3 linked regions of the Homo sapiens genome follow. The protein of the gene in region 3 interacts with the protein of the main gene of each other region in a pairwise test. Each region holds a gene or a part of one and is shown on either strand. Other genes may lie near its edges. The genes, in order: ODAD1, ATCAY and KLC1.

What was found.
Region 1: the proteins of KLC1 (region 3) and ODAD1 interact in binary tests that used the Homo sapiens proteins (3 or more experiments, as listed by UniProt).
Region 2: the proteins of KLC1 (region 3) and ATCAY interact in binary tests that used the Homo sapiens proteins (3 or more experiments, as listed by UniProt).

Annotation. Positions count from the first base shown.
Region 1 is NC_000019.10:48,297,972-48,305,079, forward strand, and holds part of ODAD1 (outer dynein arm-docking complex subunit 1), read right to left. Parts: intron 6,170-7,108; coding exon 5,982-6,169; intron 5,814-5,981; coding exon 5,679-5,813; intron 5,125-5,678; coding exon 5,042-5,124; intron 4,892-5,041; coding exon 4,723-4,891; intron 370-4,722; coding exon 206-369; intron 127-205; coding exon 29-126; intron 1-28. UniProt on the Homo sapiens protein: Component of the outer dynein arm-docking complex (ODA-DC) that mediates outer dynein arms (ODA) binding onto the doublet microtubule. Involved in mediating assembly of both ODAs and their axonemal docking complex onto ciliary microtubules.
Region 2 is NC_000019.10:3,904,599-3,911,706, reverse strand, and holds part of ATCAY (caytaxin), read right to left. Parts: intron 6,274-7,108; coding exon 6,052-6,273; intron 3,974-6,051; coding exon 3,788-3,973; intron 3,440-3,787; coding exon 3,337-3,439; intron 2,222-3,336; coding exon 2,090-2,221; intron 905-2,089; coding exon 818-904; intron 1-817.
Region 3 is NC_000014.9:103,667,168-103,674,275, reverse strand, and holds part of KLC1 (kinesin light chain 1), read right to left. Parts: intron 4,766-7,108; coding exon 4,678-4,765; intron 4,095-4,677; coding exon 3,993-4,094; intron 1,263-3,992; coding exon 1,089-1,262; intron 945-1,088; coding exon 845-944; intron 1-844. UniProt on the Homo sapiens protein: Kinesin is a microtubule-associated force-producing protein that may play a role in organelle transport. The light chain may function in coupling of cargo to the heavy chain or in the modulation of its ATPase activity.

The sequences.
Region 1 (7,108 bases), on a different chromosome or scaffold from region 3:
TCTGCGTCCCTCCTGCCCTGCGCCTCACAGAGTGTCAGGGGGCTGAAGTGGGGCCATCTTCTTCGGAAGGTCCTCCAGGCTCTGGCCCAGCACTAGGAGGGCAGCGTCGGCCAGGGAGGTGAAGCTCTGGAGAGTGTGGGAGCCTGCGGTCAGCTGGGCCACCCCCGAGACCGGCCTCCTGTCCCGGCTCCCTGCCGTCTCCCACCTGGGCATGTAGGAAGGCCTGCACTGTCAGGAGCTCCACCAGCCGCTTCTCAATGAGGCTCAGGAAGAGGCCCATGTCCCGGTCTCCCATGCTGGTCTTGACCCCAAGGAGGTCATCGATCATGCTGCTGTCGCAATGGGCCTTGGTGAAGAGGAGCTGGATATCTGCGTCATGGAGGGCCGGTTGTCAGGGATCTGGCACCGCCAGCTGGGTGCCAGCCCTCTCCCCACTCAGGTCCTCACTGCCCCATTCTACAGAGACTGCGGTCAAGGCTCAGAGACCAAAAGGGAGTCACCCGAGCTCAGCCAGCCAGGCAGGGGGACGGCACTGCTGTGCATCCCTCTCTCCCTGACTTGTCCTTCAAAGTCAGCCTCAAGTGTCACTGCCTCCAGGAAGCCTTCCCAGTGACCCCAGCAGAGCCAGCCTCATGAGTGTGAGATCCAGGCAGTGGTGAGGGGCCTGCACTTGGCTTGACACGCTGCTGCTCTTCCTATCTTGAAAATCTCAGCAATTTTTTAACAAGGGGCCCCTCATTCTGCACTGGGCCCCACAAATTATGGTCTTGCACCCCAGACTGAGTTAGGGCCTTCTCTCGCCCCCAGTGCCTGGGCGTCCTCTGTCCTAGCCCCTGAGTGATGAGTGCCCAGTGCGCAGGTCAGTCCCCTCCAGGGCCTCTCCCCACTGTGCCCACATCACCTAGCACAGGGCTCGGATCAGCCATCACGACAGCAGGAAGGAGGACCTGCCCATATCTGAGCTCCTACGGTATGCCCCGAGGAGGCTCTCCAGCTCGCTCCCCACCACCCCCCACCTTTCTCTCCATCCGTCATCCCTTCTAATTCTCATGACAACCCTGCAAAGTAGGCACTGCCATCCCCATTCCCAGAGCGGAAGGAGGAAGCCACACACCAAGGTTCACAATTGGTGGAGCTGAGATTCAAACCCAGGACAGGCTGGGTGCAGTGGCTCACGCCTGTAATCCAGCACTTTGGGAAGCCAAGGCAGGCAGATCATTTGAGGTCAGGAGTTTGAGACCAGCCTGGCCACCATGGTGAAACCCTGTCTCTACTAAAAATACAAAAAAACTAGCCGGGCATGGTAGTGCAGGCCTGTAATCCCAGTTACTGGAGAGGCTGAGGCAGGAGAATTGCTTGAACCCGGGAGATGGACGTTGCAGTAAGCCCAGATCACACCACTGCTCTCCAGCCTGGCTGACAGCGTGAGATTCCATCTCAAAAAAACAAATAAAAGCTAACAATAAATGTTTTAAAAAAGAGAAAAGAAACAGGACAGCCTGACTCCTGAGTGCTCTGCATGGCTACTTCCTGAAAAATAAGAAAGATGAGGCCCGGCGCAGTGGCTCACACCTGTAATCCCAGCACTTTGGGAAGCCAAGGCGGGTGGATCACCTCAAGTCAGGAGTTTGAGACCAGCCTGACCAACATGGCAAAACCCCCCTCCACTAAAAATACAAAAATTAGCTGGGTGTGGTGGTGTGTGCCTGTAATCCCAGCTACTGGGAGGCTGAGGCAGGAGAATCGCTTGAACCAGGAGGGGGAGATTGCAGTGAGCCGAGATCGTGCCACTGCACTCCAACCTGGGGAACAGAGCGAGACTTTCTCAAATTTTAAAAAATAATAATAATAATAGAAAAAAAGGATGCACAGGTGGATGCAACATACCCACAGAAGGGATTAAAAAAAAAAAAAAGAAACTCAGCCAGGAGTGGTGGCTCATGCCTATAATCCCAGCACTTTGGGAGTCCAAGACAGGAGGATCACTTGAGTCCAGGAGTTCAAGACTAGCCTGGACAACATAGTAAAATCCTATCTCTAAAAAAAAAAAGGGCCGGGCACAGTGGCTCATGCATATGTAATCCCAGCACTTTGGGATACTGAGGCGGGCAGATCACCTGAGGTCAGGAGTTTGAGACCAGCCTGCCAACATGGCGAAACCCCGTCTCTACTAAAAATACCAAAATTAGTTGGGCGTGGTGGCGGGCACCTGTAATCCCAGCAACTCAGGAGGCTGAGGCAGAACTGCTTGAACCTGGGTGGCAGAGGTTGCAGTGAGCCGAGATTGTGCCACTGCACTCCAGCCTGGGCAAAAGAGCGAAATTCCTCTCAAAAAATAAATAAATGAAAAAAATCTAAAAAAATTTTTAAAAAGGAAACTCTAGACCCCTACCTCATACCATAATGCAAATCAATTTGTCATAAGTCACAGACTTCAATGTGGGAGTTCAAACAATGAAACTTCTAGGAGAAAACACAGCATAATGCCTTTGTAACCTCAGGACAGGCAAAAATTTCTTAGGCAGGCCACAAAGTCATTAACTACAAAAAGAAAATTTCATAAATTAGATATCCTCAAAACTAAGAAACTTCAGTTCATCACCAAAAAAAATGAAAAGGCAAGCTACAGTATAAGAGAAAATATTTACCAAAAGTCTAGTATCTAGAATATACAAAGAACTCCTTCAACTCAGTTATAGCAAGACAAACCCAATTTTTAAAAAAACAAGTGCACAAGATTGAACAGGAACTTTACAAAAACATCTGAATGGCCAATACGATGCTCAATATTATTAGTCACCAGGGAAATGCCAATTAAATTAATAGAGAGAGTACGGCACACACGTTAGATGGCTAATATTAAAATGGCTGACGGCCAGGCACGGGGGCTCACGCCTGTAATCCCAGCACTTTGGGAGGCCGAGGCGGGCAGATCACGAGGTCAAGAGATCGAGACCATCCTAGCCAACGTGATGAAACCCCGACTCTACTAAAAATACAAAAATTAGCTGGGCGTGGTGGCGCACACCTGTAGTCCCAGCTACTGGAGAGGCTGAGGCAGGAGAATCGCTTGAACCCAGGAAGCGGAGGTTGCAGTGAGCCGAGATCATGCCATTGCACTCCAGCCTGGTGACAGAGCAAGACTGCATCTCAAAAACAAAACAAGATAAAAAATGGCTGACACTAGGAAGTGGTGGAAAAGGTGTGGATCATCGGGGACTCCCATATGCTCGCATAGGTGAGAGCATAAAATCTTGCGACCAGTGTGGAAAACTGTTCGGCATTTTCTAATAAATATCAACATATACCTACCCTAAGACCCATCGGTCCCACTGCTAGGCATTTATAGACAGAGATGTACATGGATGATCCATGGATGAATACTGGGTAGATGGATGGATGGGTGGATGATGGATATGGGACAGTTGGAGGGACAGCATCTGTTTTTTAGTGTTTTGTGAAACAAGTGGAATAATGCATAAGTGCCTTGCACAGTGAATGACACATAATAAACATTGCTATTATATTTTATCATCATTTTCTTTACAAATAATAACATTTTTGGTAACTAAGACTAAGAAGAAATTTGGTAACTAAGACTAAGAAGAAATTTGGTAACTAAGACTAAGACTAGGAAGACAAAAGTCAAATGTCATTGCAGATAGATGGATGAACAGATGGATGTGGGGCTGTTGGAGGCAGATGGACAGATAGACAATGGATGGATTGATGGACATGGGACAGATGGAGGGATAGACCCTGGATGGATGGATGGACATGGGACAGTTGGAGGGATAGACCCTGCATGGATGGATGGACATGGGACAGTTGGAGGAATAGATCCTGGATGGATGGATGGATGGATGGATGGATGGATGGATGGATGGATGGATATACGGACAGATGGATATAGGACAGATGAAGGGGTAGATCCTGGATGGATAGATATGGGACAGATGAAGGAATAGACCCTGGATAGATAGATGGATATGGGACAGATGGAGGTATAGAACCTGGATGGAGAGATAGATATAGGACAGATGAAGGAATAGATCCTGGATGAATGATGGATACAGGACAGTTGGAGGAATAGACCCTGGATGGATGGATGGATGGGTGGATGAATGGATGGATGGATGGATGAATGGATGGATGGATATAGGACAGATGGAGGGGTAGGTCCTGGATGGGTAGATAGATATAGAACAGATGAAGGAACAGACCCTGGATAGATAGATGGATATGGGACAGAATGGAGGGATAGACCCTGGATGGAGAGATAGATATAGGACAGATGAAGGAATAGATCCTGAATGGATGATGGATATAGGACAGTTGAAGGGATAGACTCTGAATGGATGGATGGATATAGGATAATTGGAGAGACAGACGTTGAATGGATGGATGGATGGATGGATGGATGGATGGATGGATGGATGGATATGGGACAGTTGGAGGGATCAACCCTAGATGGATGGATGGATGCATTGATAGATGGATGGATGGATGGGTGTAGGACAGTTGGAGGGACAGATGATGGATGGATAGATGGACATGGGACAGTTGGAGGGATAGACCCTGGTTGGAAAGATGGACAGATATGGGGCAACTGATAAGCAAGTGAACCAGGTTGTCCATGCAATGCCTCCAAGCCCCGCGGGCTGATGGTGTCCTTCCAAGTGGAGAAGCCAGGCTCGGGAGGGGGCGCCCATGGGTGCTCACCAGCCTTGAGCTTCTCCAGCTGTCCCCGCACATCCTGGAAGCGGGCCTCAAGGCGCTCAGCCTCCGAGTGCACCTTGTCCATGCGCTGCTGCAACACCTTCTGCTGCTGCTCCTGCAGCAAATGCTGGTCATCCTTGCTGGCACGTGCGCTCACCAAAGCCTCCTGCATCTGTGGGGACAGGGCTGAATGCTGGGCCAGATGGCAGCCTCGGGAGTTGGGGGTGTGGAGCTAGGAAGAAGCAGGAGGCAGGCTGAGGGAGGGAAGGGGGCGGGGAGGCCGGGAGGAGAGGAGGAGATGGAGAGGGCAGGCCTCACTCACCTCCTTGATCTCTTCCTGCACATGCTCCAGCTCCAAGTTCTGCTCGTTGATGAAGTTGAACTCAGCAAAGTTGCGCTCCTCGACTGGGAGAGTTGGGCAAGGCGGGGCCCAGAGAGAGGGAGACAGAGAAACAGAGACAGAGAGAACAGAGACAGAGAGGCATACAGAAGGCCAAAGAAAGTGAAGATGAGGAAGGCCACACAGAAACCAAGGCAGAGAGACGAACAGAGAGGAGTCACAGAGACAAAGAGGTGTGGGAAGATACGGCAGGTGGGACACAGAAATACACAGCAAGGCAGAGAGGGAAAGCCAGAGACTCGGCAATAGCAAGGGAGATGGGGAGATGCAGGCGGGGAGAACGGTAGATATGGGTAAGGAGAGAAACAGAGAGGGACAGGGTTGAGGGAAGGATGTGGAGAGTGACCCCAGGCCCAGGAGTTAGGAGGGGGTGGGGAGGGGCAGAGACAGGGCCACGGTAAGACGCCAGTGGACGCGGGCGGCGGGTCCCAGGCATGACGCCTTGTTCCTCCAGCACAGATGGAGGAGTTCCCCAGGGCCAGAGCTGAGGCCAGCCTGCACTGGACTCAGGGGGTGCCGGGGTCCCGGGCCTCCTCCCTCCACCCAGGGCCCCACTCACTCTCCAGATACTTCTGCACCAACAGGTCAGGGTCACTCTCCCCCATCAGCTGGGACAGTTTATTCAGGGCGTCCTCGTAGCAAAGCACCAGCCTCTCCTGGGAGGTCTTCCAGACGCCCTCGGCCACCTCCCCGGCTAGGGGAAGAGAGAACAGCAGGTCGGCCTCCTGGGTGGCCTCCAACACAGAGACCTCCTGGGTGAGGGGGAGCGAAGTGTGGTCCCACCTGGGGCACGAAGGTGTGCTGCAGGTGCCCCAGGGGCGGCCAGGCCCTTGAGATGCAAAGGCAGCAGCCCCAGCCTCACCCTGCTTTTCACGCTTCTCCAGGACATCGGGATCCGGCTGCCGGTCGTTGTTCTTGAGCTTGAGGAAGTGGTGCAGCTGCTCCAGGTGCAAGATCTGCCGCTGCAGGACCTGCGCCTCCATCTCGCTCTGGGCCTCCTCTTTCTCCGCGCGCTCCCGCAGCAAGCCCATCTTGGCCTTCGCCTCCTCCCTGCGGGGGTCAGCCGGGGTCAGGATGACTGGAGGCTGGACTGGGGTCGGCCTGGGGTCCTGGGGATGGGCGGGGTCAGCCAGAGGTTGTGGGGGGTGAGGTGGAGTCAGCTGGTGTCCCAGATGGGCAGGGCCAGCCTGGGGTCACAGGAATGGGGCTGAATCAGGTTGCAGTTATCCTGTGGTCACAAAAAGCAGAGAACTGGCTGGGCACGGTGGCTCAGGCTGTAATCCCAGCACTTTGGGAGGCAGGAGGATCACCTGCAGTCAGGAGTTTGAAACCAGCCTGGCCAACATGGTGAAACTCCATCTCTACTAAAAATACAAAAATTAGCCAGACCTGGTGGTGCATGCCTGTAATCCCAACTACTTGGGAGGCTGAGGCAAGAGAATCGCTTGAACCTGGGAGGTGAAGATTGCAGTGAGCTGAGATCGCACCACTGCACTCCAGCCTGGGTGGCAAGAGCGAAACTGTCTCAAAAAAAAAAAAAAGACAGAAGCAAGAACTTCAAAAGAGTGCGACATCATATTAGAAACACAACACAAAACTCTCGGTGTGCTGCTGGCTCACGTTCTTTCAGCAGCCTGCTCTCCTCATCCTTCAGAGTGTACTGTCTCTCTCTAGGTAAACTCTCTGTTCTCTATTTGCCTTCAGTAAATTCTCTTTGTTGGCTAAATCAGTCTCTTGGCAGAATTCTTTCTCCCAAGTAAGACTAAAAAGCGAGGATTCCTGTACTTCCCGGTGGCAGGTAGTTTTCCTTTTGGAGTGATGGAAATATTTCAGATCTAGACAGAAGTGGTGCGGTTGCACGGCCCCGTGAATGTACTAAATGCTGCTACATTCTACGCTTTAAAATGGTGAATTTTGCCACGTTTGTTTTAACAGAGAGAGAGAAAGAGAGAAATCACAGAGACCCTAAGGCCGACCCAGGCCACAGCT
Region 2 (7,108 bases), on a different chromosome or scaffold from region 3:
ATTGGATTGAATAGGGCATTTAACATGCCTAATTTTATTTCACTTGATCTGTTTTACTATATGTTTAATATAGTAACTATATATGATATACATTATAGAATATATGTAGTTTTAAATTTTAAATTTATTAGTCATATTATTTATTTATTTATACATACATATATATATATTTTATTTTTAGAGACAGGGTTGTTTTGCTCTGTCTCCCAGGCTGGAGTGCAGTGGAGTGATCATAGCTCACTGCAGCCTCTACCTCCTGGGCTCAAGTGATCCTCCTGCCTCAGCCTCCTGAGTAGCTGGGACTACAGGCATGTGATGCCATGCATGACTGATTTTCTTTTGAGACAGGGTCTCACTCTGTCATCCAGGCTGGAGTACAGTGGCTCGATCACGGCTCATTGCAGCCTTGATCTCCTGGGCTCAAGCCATCCTCCCACGTGAGCCTCCCAAGTAGCTGAAACTACAGGTGTGCACCACCACGTCCTGCTAATTTTTGTATTTTTTGTAGAGATGGGGGTTTTGCTATGTTGCTCAGGCTGGCCTCAAACGATCCTCCCACCTCAGCCTTCTGAGTAGCTGGGATTACAGGTGTCAGCCACTGTGCCTGGCTGTGTGCAATTTAAAACTGTTTAAAGCAATAATATGTATTCATCATAGAGAAGCTGGAACATGCACATCAAACACACACATGGATGCACACACACACAGATGCACACACGCACACACGTGCACACATGCACACACAAATGCATGCATACACACACGCACACACGCACACTGAGGCCACTGGACTTGGGTTGCAGCCTCCCCGTCTCACCTGATGAAAGGGCGAGAGATGGCCAGCACAGTCCGAATGAACCACGAGGGGTGGACGATGATCAAGGACTTCAGGTTTTTCCGCAACCTGTGTGGGGCCGCAAAGGAAGCAAGATGGGCTCCTGGGGCGAGCCCTGGGGAGGGAGGAGCTGGGTGGGACGGGAGAGCCACAAGCAAGCATTCGTCACTCTGCTCATTCCACGTGTGGTCTCCAGGTACCTGTCAAATCCCTGCCCCCATCCAAGACATGGGGGTCCTATGGTGGGATAAAGACACACCCTTTGAGTCCCTAAGACCCTCAGGTGGATGAGGTAGGTAGAGACCCCATGGTGCAGAGCAGGTGAACCAGGTTGGTAGTTATTTGAGCAGCCAAGATTGTATTTTCACCACCTAATGCCCTAGGAGGGACCAGCCTGTCCTTGGAGCCTCCCTCCACTAACCTGGGTGCAAGGATGGATTGGCTGGCTCAATTTTAATGTCACTCTGAGGCTATTTACAATAACTCAGGGGTGGAAGCAACCCATGTCCATCAAGAGATGAATGGAATGGACAAACCAAATGTGGTATGTCCATACAGTGGAATATTATGCAGCCATGAAAAGGAAGGAGGCTCTGACACAGGCTACAATGTGGATGCACCCTGAGGACATCACACTCAGTGAGGAAAGCCAGACACAAAAGGACAAATCCTGTGTGATTCCAGTCCTAGGAGGTCCCTAGAGTCATCAGATTTACAGAGACAGAAAGTAGGATGGGGGGTGCCGGAGCCTGGGGAGAAGGAATAGGGAGTGAGTGTTTCATGGGGACAGAGTCTCGCTCTGTTGCCCAGGCTGAAGTGCAGTGGCATGATCTCGGCTCACTGCAACCTCCACCTCCTGGGTTCAAGTGATTCTCCTGCCTCAGCTTCCCAAGTAGCTGGGACTACAGGCATGCGCCACCACGCCCAGCTAATTTTTGAATTTTTTTAGTAGAGATGGGGTTTCACTATATGTTGGCCGGGCTGGTCTTGAACTCCTGACCTCAGGTGATCCACCCACCTTGGCCTCCCAAAGTGCTGGGATTAGAGGTGTGAGCCCCCTTGCCCGGCCTAAAAGTTTTTCTGTAGAGACAGCGTCTTGCTGCGTTGCCCAGGCTGGTCTCAAACTCCTGGGCTCAAGGGACCTTCCCACCTCAGCCTCCCGAAGTGCTGGGATTCCAGGTGTGAGCCACCATGTCCAGCCCCCTGTGTGATTTTCATGCCCCCACTGTGCTTCCTGAGGCATCCCCACCTCACCTCCGGTCGATCATCTGGTAGCACTTCTTCAGCCAGCCGATTCCAGGCATCCTCCGCCGGGGCGTGGCACCGTTCAGGTACACGATCATGTAGTCCTCAGCCACCAGGAGCTCTAAGCTGCTGATGACGTACCTGCTCACGGGGCACAGAAGGCAGGGACCCAACATGGAGGGGTCCAGGGTCAGGACACCTGCGGTGCCGACCCTGCCTGCCTCCACTCCTGCCGCTGGCTGGGTCAGCCCCACTGGTCCAGGTGTTGTCTGCTGTCCTGGCGGACTGCAGGGTGGGAGAGGACGTGGATGATCCCAGCACACTCCACATGAGTGTCAGCGGGCATCCTCATAGGGCAGTTACTCTTTTATTGAGTCGTTTTTTTTTTTTGAGACGGAATCTCGCTCTGTTGCCCAGGCTAGAGTGCAGTGGTGCGATCTCGGCTCACTGCAAGCTCCGCCTCCCAGGTTCACGCCATTCTCCTGCCACAGCCTCCCTAGTAGCTGGGATTACAGGCGCCTGCCACCGAGCCCAGCTAAATTGTAGTTTTAGTAGAGGCAGGATTTCACTATGTTGGCCAGGCTGGTCTCTAGGCCTTGCTTTTTTTTTTTTTTTTTTTTTTTGAGACAGGTTCTCACTCTGTCACCCAGGCTGGAGTGCAGTGGTGCCATCTCAGAGCGGGAAGAGGAGGAGGAAGGGGAAGAGGATGGGGAGGAGGAGGATGGGGAGGGGGAGGAGAGGGAAGGAGAGGAAGATGAGGGAAGGAGGAGAAGGAGGAGGAAGGGGGGAGAAAGGGGAGGAAGAGAAAGAGGATGAGGTGGAGAAAGGGGAGGAAGAGGAGGAGAAGGAAGAGGGGGGAGGAGGAGAGGGAAGGGGAAGAGGGGGAGGAGGAGAGGGAAGGGGAGGAGGAGGAGAAAAGGGAGGAGGAGGGGGGAGGAAGAAGGGGAGGAGAAGGAGGAGAAGAAAGGGGAAGGGGGAGGAAGAAGGGGAGGAGGAGGAGGACAGTGAGGAGGAGGGGAAGGAGGAGGAAGAGGAGGAGGAGGAGGACGGGGAGGAGAACAGGGTGGCCCAGAGGGAAGGCCACTGTGAGCCTCAGGGCCAGCAGGGACTCAGATCAAGGTCTGTGGCCACCACGCCCTTCCCTGGTGCCAGGCAGGCTTCCTAGGGCCACAATGCAATCCTTGCAGCCTGGTGCCCCTGTGGCCAGGGAGGCATCAGAGCTGGCCCGAGGCTGCTCGCCGCGGGCGGGGACTCACAGGAAGAGGTTCTCCATGATGTAGTGGTAGTCGGGGAGGCTGCTGTCTGGAAGGAAGCAGGCTGCGAAGACGATGATGGCGTTGAGGCCTTCGCCGTAGTACCCTGAGGAGAGGCAGCCGATCGGCAACGTCAGAGTCCTCTCCCAGCCCTGAGCTGCCTCCCGCGCACCACCCACCACGTCCCGGTGCCCACACGCTCGGGAGGGCATGGCTCCGAGCCACAGCAGCCGGCGACCCCTTAGCCAGTCTCTGCCTTCGCTGAGGAGTGACAGCGACCATCAGGGGCCCCCAGTGCGCCTCCCTGACCATGCACGCCTTGCCCACAGTCCGTCCACCCGAAGCGAGTTGACGGCTTAACATCCCCGTGCATCAGAGAGGGGCACTGACGAACCCCCTGTTGCCCAGTGGGCCGGGCTGGAGCCCCAAGGGGGCACCGGGGGGCGGGTCTCACCTCCGTGGGTGACCACTTTCATGTAAGGCCGGATCATGTGCAGGTCTATACGGTGCTCTTGCTCCCCGATGATCACTGTCCGCCACAGGCGCCCGTTGGCGGCGCTGCCGTCCTCCGTCGTGCCGTCCCCAAATAGATCCGCGCTGTCCCCGGGCATGTTCTTGGCGGTGGCCACGGGGGTGTCGTCTAGAAGCAGGTGGCGGAGAGTCGCATGGACGCCAGAGTCCGGATATCTCCTGCCCTCCTGCTCAGCCTTCCTTCCCCTCTCCCACCTCCCTCGCTGCCGGGACCCACAAGTCCTTCGCTTCTCCCCACCTGGCTGCCCTGCTGACCCATTTTCCTCTCCTACTCCCCTTTCAAGGCCTGGCTCAAATGCCGCCTCCTCCAGGAAGCCTTTCTGGACATTCCCTTTGCTGGCCTCCCAGGGCACTCTGTTGGTTAAGGACCTGTGTCCTGGAGCTTCTCAGAGCTGGTGAATGCATCTGCTTCATCAAACCACGAGGATACTCGGGGCATGCATGCTTGGTTTTTACTCTCCCAGGAGCCTGGCACACAGAGAGCAGTCCTCCTGCCTCAGCCTCCCAGATACCTGGGACTACAGTTGTGCACCACCACACCCAGCTAATTTTTATATTTTTGTAGAGATGGGGTTTCAATATGTTGCCCAGGCTGGTCTCAAACTCCTGGCCTTAAGCGATCCTCCTACCCTGGCCTCCCGAAGCTCTGGGATTACAGGAATGAGCCACTACATTGTCCTTAATTTTTTTTTTTCTTTCTTTTTTTTTTTTGAGAGAGTCTTGTTCCATCGCCCAGGCTGGAGTGGAGTGGTGCGATCTCTGCTCACTGCAGCCTCTGCCTCCAGAGTTCAAGCGATTCTCCTGCCTCAGCCTCCCGAGTAGCTGGGACTACGCACGCCACCATGCCCGGCTAATTTCTGTATTTTTAGTAGAGATGGAGCTTCACCATGTTGGCCAGGCTGGTCTCAAACTCCTGACCTCAGGTGATCTGCCCACCTCAGCCTCCCAAAGTGCTGGGATTACAGGCGTGAGTCACTGCGCCTGGCCTTTCGTGGTCTGTCTTTCTGATGATCTGTGTGTGCAGGTAGGGACCAGGACCATCTCTTCTTATCATAGCCCTGCCATATACCCCACGCCTGAATCAGGACTTGCCCTGGAGTAAATGGTCAAAAAGTATTTGTTGCATACATCGAGGGCAGTTTGTTGGGATCTTGGTCGCCTTTGAGATTCTGATGAAAGCCACGTTCTGCAGAAAAATTCACAAGCCCACAAGAAAAATATGCATCAAATTGCAGGGGCAGGCTGGGCGCCGTGGCTCACACCTGTGATCCCAGCACTTTGGGAGGCCGAGGTGGGTGTATCACTTGAAGTCAGGAGTTTGAGACCAGCCTGGGCAACATGGGAAAACCCCATCTCTACTAAAAATATAAACATCAGCCGGAAGTGGTAGTGCATGCCTGTAATCCCAGCTACTCGGGAGGCTGAGGCAAAAGAATCGCTTGAACCCGGGAGGTGGAGGATGCAGTGAGCTGAGATCACACCACTGCACTCCAGCCTGGGCAACAGAGTGAGACTCTGTCTCAAAAAAAAAAAAAAAACAGTCGCAGGAGCGGATGGACCCTCCTCCTGGCACCCCTCCTATTCTGCTATCGAACAATAGAACTTATTCCTTCTGTCTAACTGTATGTTGGTACCCATTCACCAACCTCTCTCTCTCTTTTTTTTTTTTTTTGAGACGGAGTCTCGCTCTGTCGCCCAGGCTGGAGTGCAGTGGCACAATCTTGGCTCACCGCAAGCTCGGCCTCCTGGGTTCACACCGTTCTCCTGCCTCAGCCTCCTGAGTAGCTGGGACTTCAGGTGCCCGCCACCATGCCTGGCTAATTTTTTGTATTTTAGTAGAGACGGGGTTTCACTGTGTCAGCCAGGATGGTCTCGATCTCCTGACCTCGTGATCTGCCCGCCTCGGCCTCCCAAAGTGCTAGGATTACAGGCATGAGCCACTGCGCCCAGCCACCTCTCTCTTTTTTAAAAATTTTATTTTTGAGACAGGGTCTCACTCTGTTGTCCAGGCTGGAGTGCAGTGGCATGATCACGTCTCACTGCAGTCTTGATCTCCTGGGTTTAAGGCTAGACTGCTTAGAGCCCCTGCCCCACTTGTGACTCTCTGAGCCTATGGGAATCCAGAGACGGAAAGGTGGGGTGGGGGGGGTGGGCTCCAGCAGGCCCCAGAGAGACCCTGAACTTTACCTTCCCACTCCAGTTCGTTGCCATTCCCCAGGAACTCCAGCGAGTCGGTCTCATCGGGGGTCTCGATGTCATCCACGTTAATATCCAGGTCATCAGGGGTATCCAAGAAGTCATCGGACAGCAGGGACCCCTCACTCTGATCCAGAGAAATGTTGATCTCTGGGGCCACCAGCGTCTTCCTCTTACGATGCGCTCCGTTGAAATTTAGCGTGTTGGGAGGAGCTGCAGGGAAATGAGAAAAATGGAAAACATCTTTGCTTTCTCTCTTTTACCTTCCCCCCATTTTCCTACCTGGTGGAAGCTGTTTCATCATGCAGGAATGGGAAGAGAGGGTGGGCTCCCTTCTGTATCCATGCCATTGGCGGGGGTGGGCAGAATTAAACCGACATCATCCTGACAGGGGTGAATGTTATAACCTCTGTCCTGTGGGCAAGCCTCAGAGATTAAGGGGATGGATGCTTGGACATTGGGCAGACATGAGTTCAAAGCCTGACTTTGGGCCGGGTGCGGTGGCTCACGCCTGTAATCCCAGCACTTTGGAGGCCGAGGCGGGCAGATCACCTGAGGTCAGGAGTTCGAGACCAGCCTGGCCAACATGGCGAAACCCCATCTCTACTAAAAATATAAAAATTAGCCGGGCACAGTGGTGGCGCCTGTAATCCCAGCTGCTTGGGAGTCTGAGGCAGGAGAATCACTTGAGCCCAGGAGGCGGAGGTTACAGTGAGCCAAGATCGTACCATTGCACTCCAGCCTGGGTGACAGAGTGAAACTCTATCTCAAAAATAAATAAATAAATAAATAAAGGAGAAGAGACATATCTCTTGTGCAGACAAATTGTGAAAGCAGCCCATCTTCTTCTAGGCTTTCTCTGACTCTCACCCTCCTGTCTCCACTCATGAGGATCCTGTAACGATGTCAGGCCACCTGGATAATACAGGATCCAGGATAGTCTCCTATTTTAATCAGAGTGCTCCAGGGAAACAAATCCAATAGGACGTGTGTGTGTGTGTGTGTGTGTGTATACATATTTTTTTCCTATATGTATGGAAAAAAAGAG
Region 3 (7,108 bases):
GGTACTCACACTAAAAATGTAAAGAAAATAAGCAGTATACATGATGATATGGACGGTATGGTTTGAAATCTGTAAACCAAAGGCACAGAAGGAAGGAAAGACATTAAAAATGTGAAAAGATGAATTTGGGTGATTCTCCTGTTTCCATTTCTGCATGAATTGGGTAGGTCTCTGCAATGAGGACATGAAGATGGATTTGGGTGATGCTCCTGTCTCCATTTCTGCGTGAACTGTATAGGTCTCTGCAATGAGGACATGTTATGGGCTCTGGGCACTGTAATCCCAGTCTAACTGCTTCTCAGCTACGGGGCCTCACACAAGTCACTTAGTCTGTGGTGTCTTTTTTTTTTTTTGAGACAGAGTCTCACTCTGTTGCCCAGGCTGGAGTGCAGTGGCACGATCTCGGCTCACTGCAAGATCCGCCTCCCGGGTTCACGCCATTCTCCTGCCTTAGCCTCCCGAGTAGCTGGGACTACAGGCGGCCGCCATCACACCCGGCTAAGTTTTTGTATTTTTAGTAGAGACGGGGTTTCACTGTGTTAGCCAGGATGGTCTCGATCGCCTGACCTCGTGATCCACCCACCTCGGCCTCCCAAAGTGCTGGAATTACAGGCGTGAGCCACCACGCCCGGCCTGTGGTATCCTTGCTTTTAAAATGGGGTAATGTTTGACCCGCTGCACAAGACTGCTGTGAAAGTGAAGTGAAATCACACATTTAAACTATTTAGCTTAGTGATGTACAAAGTTAAGTGCTTAATAAACAGTAACTAATACTATTAGTATATTACTATTAGTCAAGTCATTATACAATTAAATTCACTTGAAACGGGAGTATATTTCTTACCATCTACAGAACCAAACTCCCTTTCATGTGCACGAGTGAGAATCTCTTTGTACAGTGTTTCTGCTTGCTTGAACTTTCCTTGTTTCAAATAGCAGGATGCCTTAAAATAAAATAAAATAAAATATTTCATATCTTTCAGATGTAAATAAAGCATACATTTTAATCTCCAGTTAAATGAGAAAGTGTTTGGACTTGGGACGAAAGCACTCCTGGCCCCCTCCCTAGTGCTGTGCAGTCAACACACCAGGTTATTTTTCGTCTTAGCCACGTTGGGGTCATCAGGTCCCAGTTTTGTCTGGTAGATCTCGAGGGCTCTTTGATAATAATATTCTACTTCTTCATACTTGCCCTGGTTCTGGCACAGTAAGGCCAAGTTATTTAACTGCTTGGCAACATCGGGGTGATCCTTCCCCAAAACCTGAAAATAAAAAACAGCATATTAGAGACACTTGTTCTGCTTCCATCCAATCCATTCTCCACCCTACTGTCACATCAGGATCTTCCTCAACATAAGCACGACTGTGCTACACTTTCAGATTTAAATCCTTAACTGGCTCGCTACACCACGTAGTAATAAAATAACCAGAATTTCTCAAATTCTTATTCATGAGGGGAGGGAGGGAACTGTGCTCATCTTCTTTAGCTGTGTTAATTACTGTAGTAATCCTTCATGGTAGTTATATTTTTGTACATTGGTTGTACTATGTACAAATGTACACATTAGGCACATTTTGAAGATAAGGAAATGGGCTTTGTAAAGGCTATGTGAGTTTTACTGCCAGCTTCTGAAGAGCCCACAGCTGTCCCAGTTGCCCAGGATGCTCTTCTCCTAGCCCTCCCTACTAGCTACGACTTATCCTTCAGGGTTCTCCTCAGTTCCCCTCAAAGGAGACTTCCCTATACCACCCCACCTCACCTAGTGAACTCACAGGCACATCACCTGGTTGTTCTTTATAAGAATCACTTCTCTAAACTACCTTGAATATTTTTTATTACAATGTAAGCCCCAAGAGTATAAATTCTTTGTCTCTCTTCTTCACCAATGTAATCTCCGCATCGAAAAAGGGGTCTGGCACAGAGATAGATGAATGAACACTAACCTCCTCCCTCAGTACCTTGAACAAGTGATGAGTTCTCTCCGCTTTGTGCCTTTACACATGTGGTCCTCAGGGAGGTAAGCTGCCTTTCTACTCCCTTCTGCATTCCCTACCTCCCCCTGCCTAGGACACTTTTAACTCAATTATTCAAGATGCAGTTCCAACACCGACCTTCCCTGAGAAACCATCCCCAACACCCCCTGGCTCTGGCCCGCAGAAGCCCACACTTCATATCCTCCCAGAGCTCTCTATTCTAGATGCTGATGTGCCCTCTGCGGTCCTCAGTCTGTCCAGTGGACTGTGTCCTAGTGGGAGGAACTACATGTCTGATCTGTAAATCACCAACTCTAAGCAGGGGGCTCTAAATGAATGAAAGGGTAAATATATGAATGAATTTGGCAGGTCATCTTATATGGTTCCTAATCCTTAATTTGATACTTTTGTGCTCTCCCTGACTTTAACTCCAGCCCACCCCAAATTCAACCATTCTATTTCAGAAATATCATGCAGATTGACAGCATGATAAAATATTACCTGTATAATTTGATAAGGAGCCCCTTTTTATTTTCTCTCCCCCAATTCCTTGCCATGTGGCTCAAAATTAACTGATAAGAATCACTGATAAATAATCACAAAAAATACCAGGTTAAAATACCATTTGTGCGGCTGGGTGCAGTGGCTCATGCCTGTAATCCTAGCACTGTGGGAGGCTAAGGCAGATGGATCACCTAAGGTCAGGAGTTCTTGGCCAGCCTGGCCAACATGGTGAAACCCCATCTCTACTAAAAAATACAAAAATTAGCCGGGTGTTGTGGCACATGCCTGTAATCCCAGCTACCCAGGAGGCTGAGGCAAGAGAATTCCTGGAATCCAGGAGGCGAAGGCTGCAGTGAGCCGAGATCGTGCCACTGCACTCCAGCCTGGGCGACACAGCAAGACTCCGTTTCAGAAAAAAAAAAACACAATTTGTGGTCACTCATCGGATAGACCCAATACCCGAATCTTCATAACATCTAAAGAGATTGTCATACACAGCACTGCTGAAATGAACAAGTTGTTATATTTTTTAATACCTAATTACCATGAACTGTAGCAGCTGGTATTAAATATATATGACATTGACTTAATCTATAGCTCTGAGTTAATCTTTAGTTATAATAATAATTATTTCATTTTTCAGCTTCATAAAGCATATTTGGTGAATTTATCTTTAATCATGTTTTTCTTATTGACAAGCACATGTTCCACTGTCAAATGCAATGCTCCCAGGCTTTCCATCTCTAGTCCTCAGACATGTCTTCTTCAATCAGAGTCACTTCTAGGCCATATCAGGCTTGGACAGCATCAGACTCAGGACTGCACCTTTCTAAATGCACACGCCTCATAACTGGACCTTCTTTTCTTTTTTTTTTCTTTAGAGACGAGGTCTCACTATGTTACCCAGGCTGGTCTTAAACTTCCTAGGCTCAAGTGATCCTCCCACCTTGGCCTCCCAAAGTGCTGGGATTACAAGCATGAGCCACTGCACCCAGCCTGTAATTGAGTCTTAAACACTGATTTGTATGGGCCAATCTGGCTTTGTTTTGTGGGCTATTCTCTAATTAAATGAGTTGTTTTCAGCTAATAGTCAGTTAAAAACACATCACAGTGGTTATTTCTCAAAACCTAAAACCGAAAAATTTTTAAAAACACAAAAAACAGCGCCGGGCACAGTGGCTCAGCCTGTAATCCCAGCACTTTGGGAGGCCAAGGCGGGCGGATCAGGAGGTCAAGAGATTGAGAACATCCTGGCCAACATGGTGAAACCCCATCTCTACTACAAATACAAAAATTAGGTGGACGTGGTGGTGTGTCCCTGTAGTCCCAGCTACTTGGAAGGCCGAGGCAGAAGAATCACCTGAACCATGGAGGTGGGGGTTGCAGTGAGCCGAGATCACGCCACCGCACTCCAGCCCGGTGACAGAACGAGACTCCATCTCAAAAAAAAAAAAAAAACCACACACACACAAAACAAAAATCTCAAAGAAAACGACTGCCCCCTTCTTTTGTACCTTTTCTCGGATTTCCAGAGCTCTTTTACACAACGGCTCTGCTTCTTTGTACTTCCCTCTTTTACCATAAAGGACTGCAAGGTTATTCAAAGTCGCCGCCACCTGTCAACACAGAGAGAACCACTAAGAATGGTAAAAGATAACCAAATAAGAGTACATTTATACACCACATATTCATTTATATTCAATCTATACAGTAAAGCATTCTTAGTCGGATAGAACAATATGACTTCAGTTAAAATGAAAAGCGCAATTCACTAGAGTATAGATTATACAAAGTAACACTGCAGAATACTAAAATTAAACAAATCAACAACGTATTCCTGACTTTTTAAAAATTTCCCTGGAAGCCACAAAGCCAACCAAAACAGATTCATATGCAAATCTGACCAGATTTTAATGAAGACAATATAATTTTCAGAAAAAAATTTCTAGAAGGACATGCAATTTGATTTACAATCAAACAATACAGTTGGTGATCCATTTGAGGTGGGGTCATAAACAAATTAAGTGTGCTCTGGCCTGTCACTAGCACTGAGTAAGTGAAGACCTCCTACCTGCACCATCTAGGGAAAAGGCAGCACTTAAACTTTCCCTGTTGAGTTTAATGGTAAAATGAGTTGGATAAAAGAAATATATGGGGAAAATAAAATATTAAAAGAATGAAAGAACTGGATATACAAACCGCAGGATGATCTTTGCCCAAAGTTTTCTCACGAATAGCCAAGGCATCATTCAGTAGGTTAGCTGCATCTTTGTATTTATTCTGATCCCTAAATGGAAAAACACACATTAAGTGTTTCAGATGTAGATCACTACAGCTTTTCTTTTCTTTTCTTTTCTTTTTTTTTAGACAGAGTCTGACTCTGTTGCACAGGTTGGAGTGCAGTGGTGCCATCTTGGCTCACTGCAACCTCCGCCTCACGGGTTCAAGCAATTCTCTGCCTCAGCCTCCTGAGTAGCTGGGATTACAGGCATCTGTCACCACGCCCGGCTAATTTTTGTATTTTTAGTAGAGACGGGATTTCACCATGTTGGCCAGGGTGGTCTCAAACTCCTGACCTCATGATCCACCCGCCTAGGCCTCCCAAAGTGCTGGGGTTACAGGCATGAGCCATCGTGCCCGGCCTCACTACAGCTTTTTTAAATGTAATTTTCAACTACAGAAATAAAAGTTAAGCTTAAACTATTTAAGAAAAACCACAGGGCCGGGTGCAGTGGCTCATGCCTGTAATCTCAGCACTTTGGGAGGCTGAGGCGGGCAGATCACGAGGTCAGGAGATCGAGACCATCCTGGCTAACATGGTGAAACCCCATCGCTACTAAAAATACAAAAAAATTAGCCGGGTGTGGTAGCAGGCGGCTTTAGTCCCAGCTACTCGGGAGGCTGAGGCAGGAGAATGGCGTGAACCTGGGAGGTGGAGCTTGCAGTGAGCAGAGATCGTGCCACTGCACTCCAGCCTAGGCGACAGAGTGAGACTGTCTCAAAAAATAAATAAATAAAAAGATGGGTGTGGTGGCTCACGCCTGTAATCCCAACACTTTGGGAGGCTGAGGCGGGCGGATCACGAGGTCAGAAGATCGAGACCATCCTTGCTAACACAGTGAAACCCTGTCTCTACTAAAAATACAAAAAAAAATAGCCGGGCATGGCAGCATGCGCCTGTTGTCCCAGCTGCTGGGGACGCTAAGGCAGGAGAATGATGTGAACCCGGGAGGCGGAGCTTGCAGTGAGCATAGATCGCGCCACTGCACTAAAGCCTGGGTGACAGAGCAAGACTCCGTCTCAAAAGAAAAAAAAAAGAAAAAAGAAAAACCACAAGCTTATGGATGGGGAAAAAACACTGGAAGGAAATCCACCAATAAATGGACTGGCAAGGTGAACTCTGGAATCAGACCCAACTAGCTTCTGAACTTAACCTTCCCATCTAGGCCACTGGGAAGATAATGTCCCCACACTACAGTGTTGTCCTGCCTATGCCAGCTGGCCAGCACAGAATAAGTGCAACAGTCTAGAACAATGGACCAAGCTTGCATTTGGTTTCAGACAGAATTAATTCTAGTGTCTGAGCTTGGGCTCTACCAGTTAATGGCTACATGGCTTTGGGTGCATTACGTGACCTCACGCAGTCCCAGCCTTCCCATCTACAAAGCAAGTATATGATCTATTGCACAGTCTTGCTGTAAGAAGATGATATGCTACATGTATACTGAAAAAATATTTTAAAAAACAACAAACAAAAGTAAATATATTGTTGTGTCTGAACTTGGTACCCAGTCTCCCTCCATTTTGTTGAGTATGGAGGAACGAAGAATCTTTCTTGATTGGAGTAAAACAGAAACACCCCAGAACCAGAAACTCTCAGTTTAAGCGTGCTACTCACTACTGATGTGACTGAGAACAAGTACTTGCTTTTGAGACTTAGCACACATCTTTCTCAATTGAGTAGTAGTAACTGCCTGGCAAGGCTTTCCCCTGAAAAACGTGAGAAAGGTTAATAAGGCTTCTACAACCTCTGAAGCACACTAATTCTGGCCACGTATTAATATATTGTTGTTTCTTCTTTCATCCTATTACATCCTATTGTAAGCTGCCTCAAACTTTTTGTGAAAGTCAGCAAGTACAAAATAGAGTTCCAAAAAGTAGTGGCCAGGTGCGGTGGCTCACACCTGCAATCCTAGCACTTTGGGAGGCTGAGGCGGGCAGACTGCCTGAGCTCAGGAGTTCAAGACAAGCCTGGGCAACACAGTGAAACCCCATCTCTACTAAAATACAAAAAATTAGCCAGGCCTGGCGACATGCACCTGTAGTCCCAGCTACTCGGGAGGCTGAGGCAGGAGAATTGTAGCAAATGCAATTTAAAAATAAGCTACCAAGGCTGGGCACGGTGGCTCACGCCTGTAATCCCAGCACTCTGGGAGGCTGAGGCGGGTAGATCACCCGAGGTCAGGAGTTCAAGATCAACCAACATAGCAAGACCCTGTCTCTACTAAAAATACAAAAATTAGCTGGGTGTGGTGGCAGGCACCTGTAATCCCAGCTACTCGGGAGCCTGAGGCAGAAGAATCGCTTGAACCCAGGAGGCAGAGGTTGCAGTGAGCTGAGATTGTGCCAT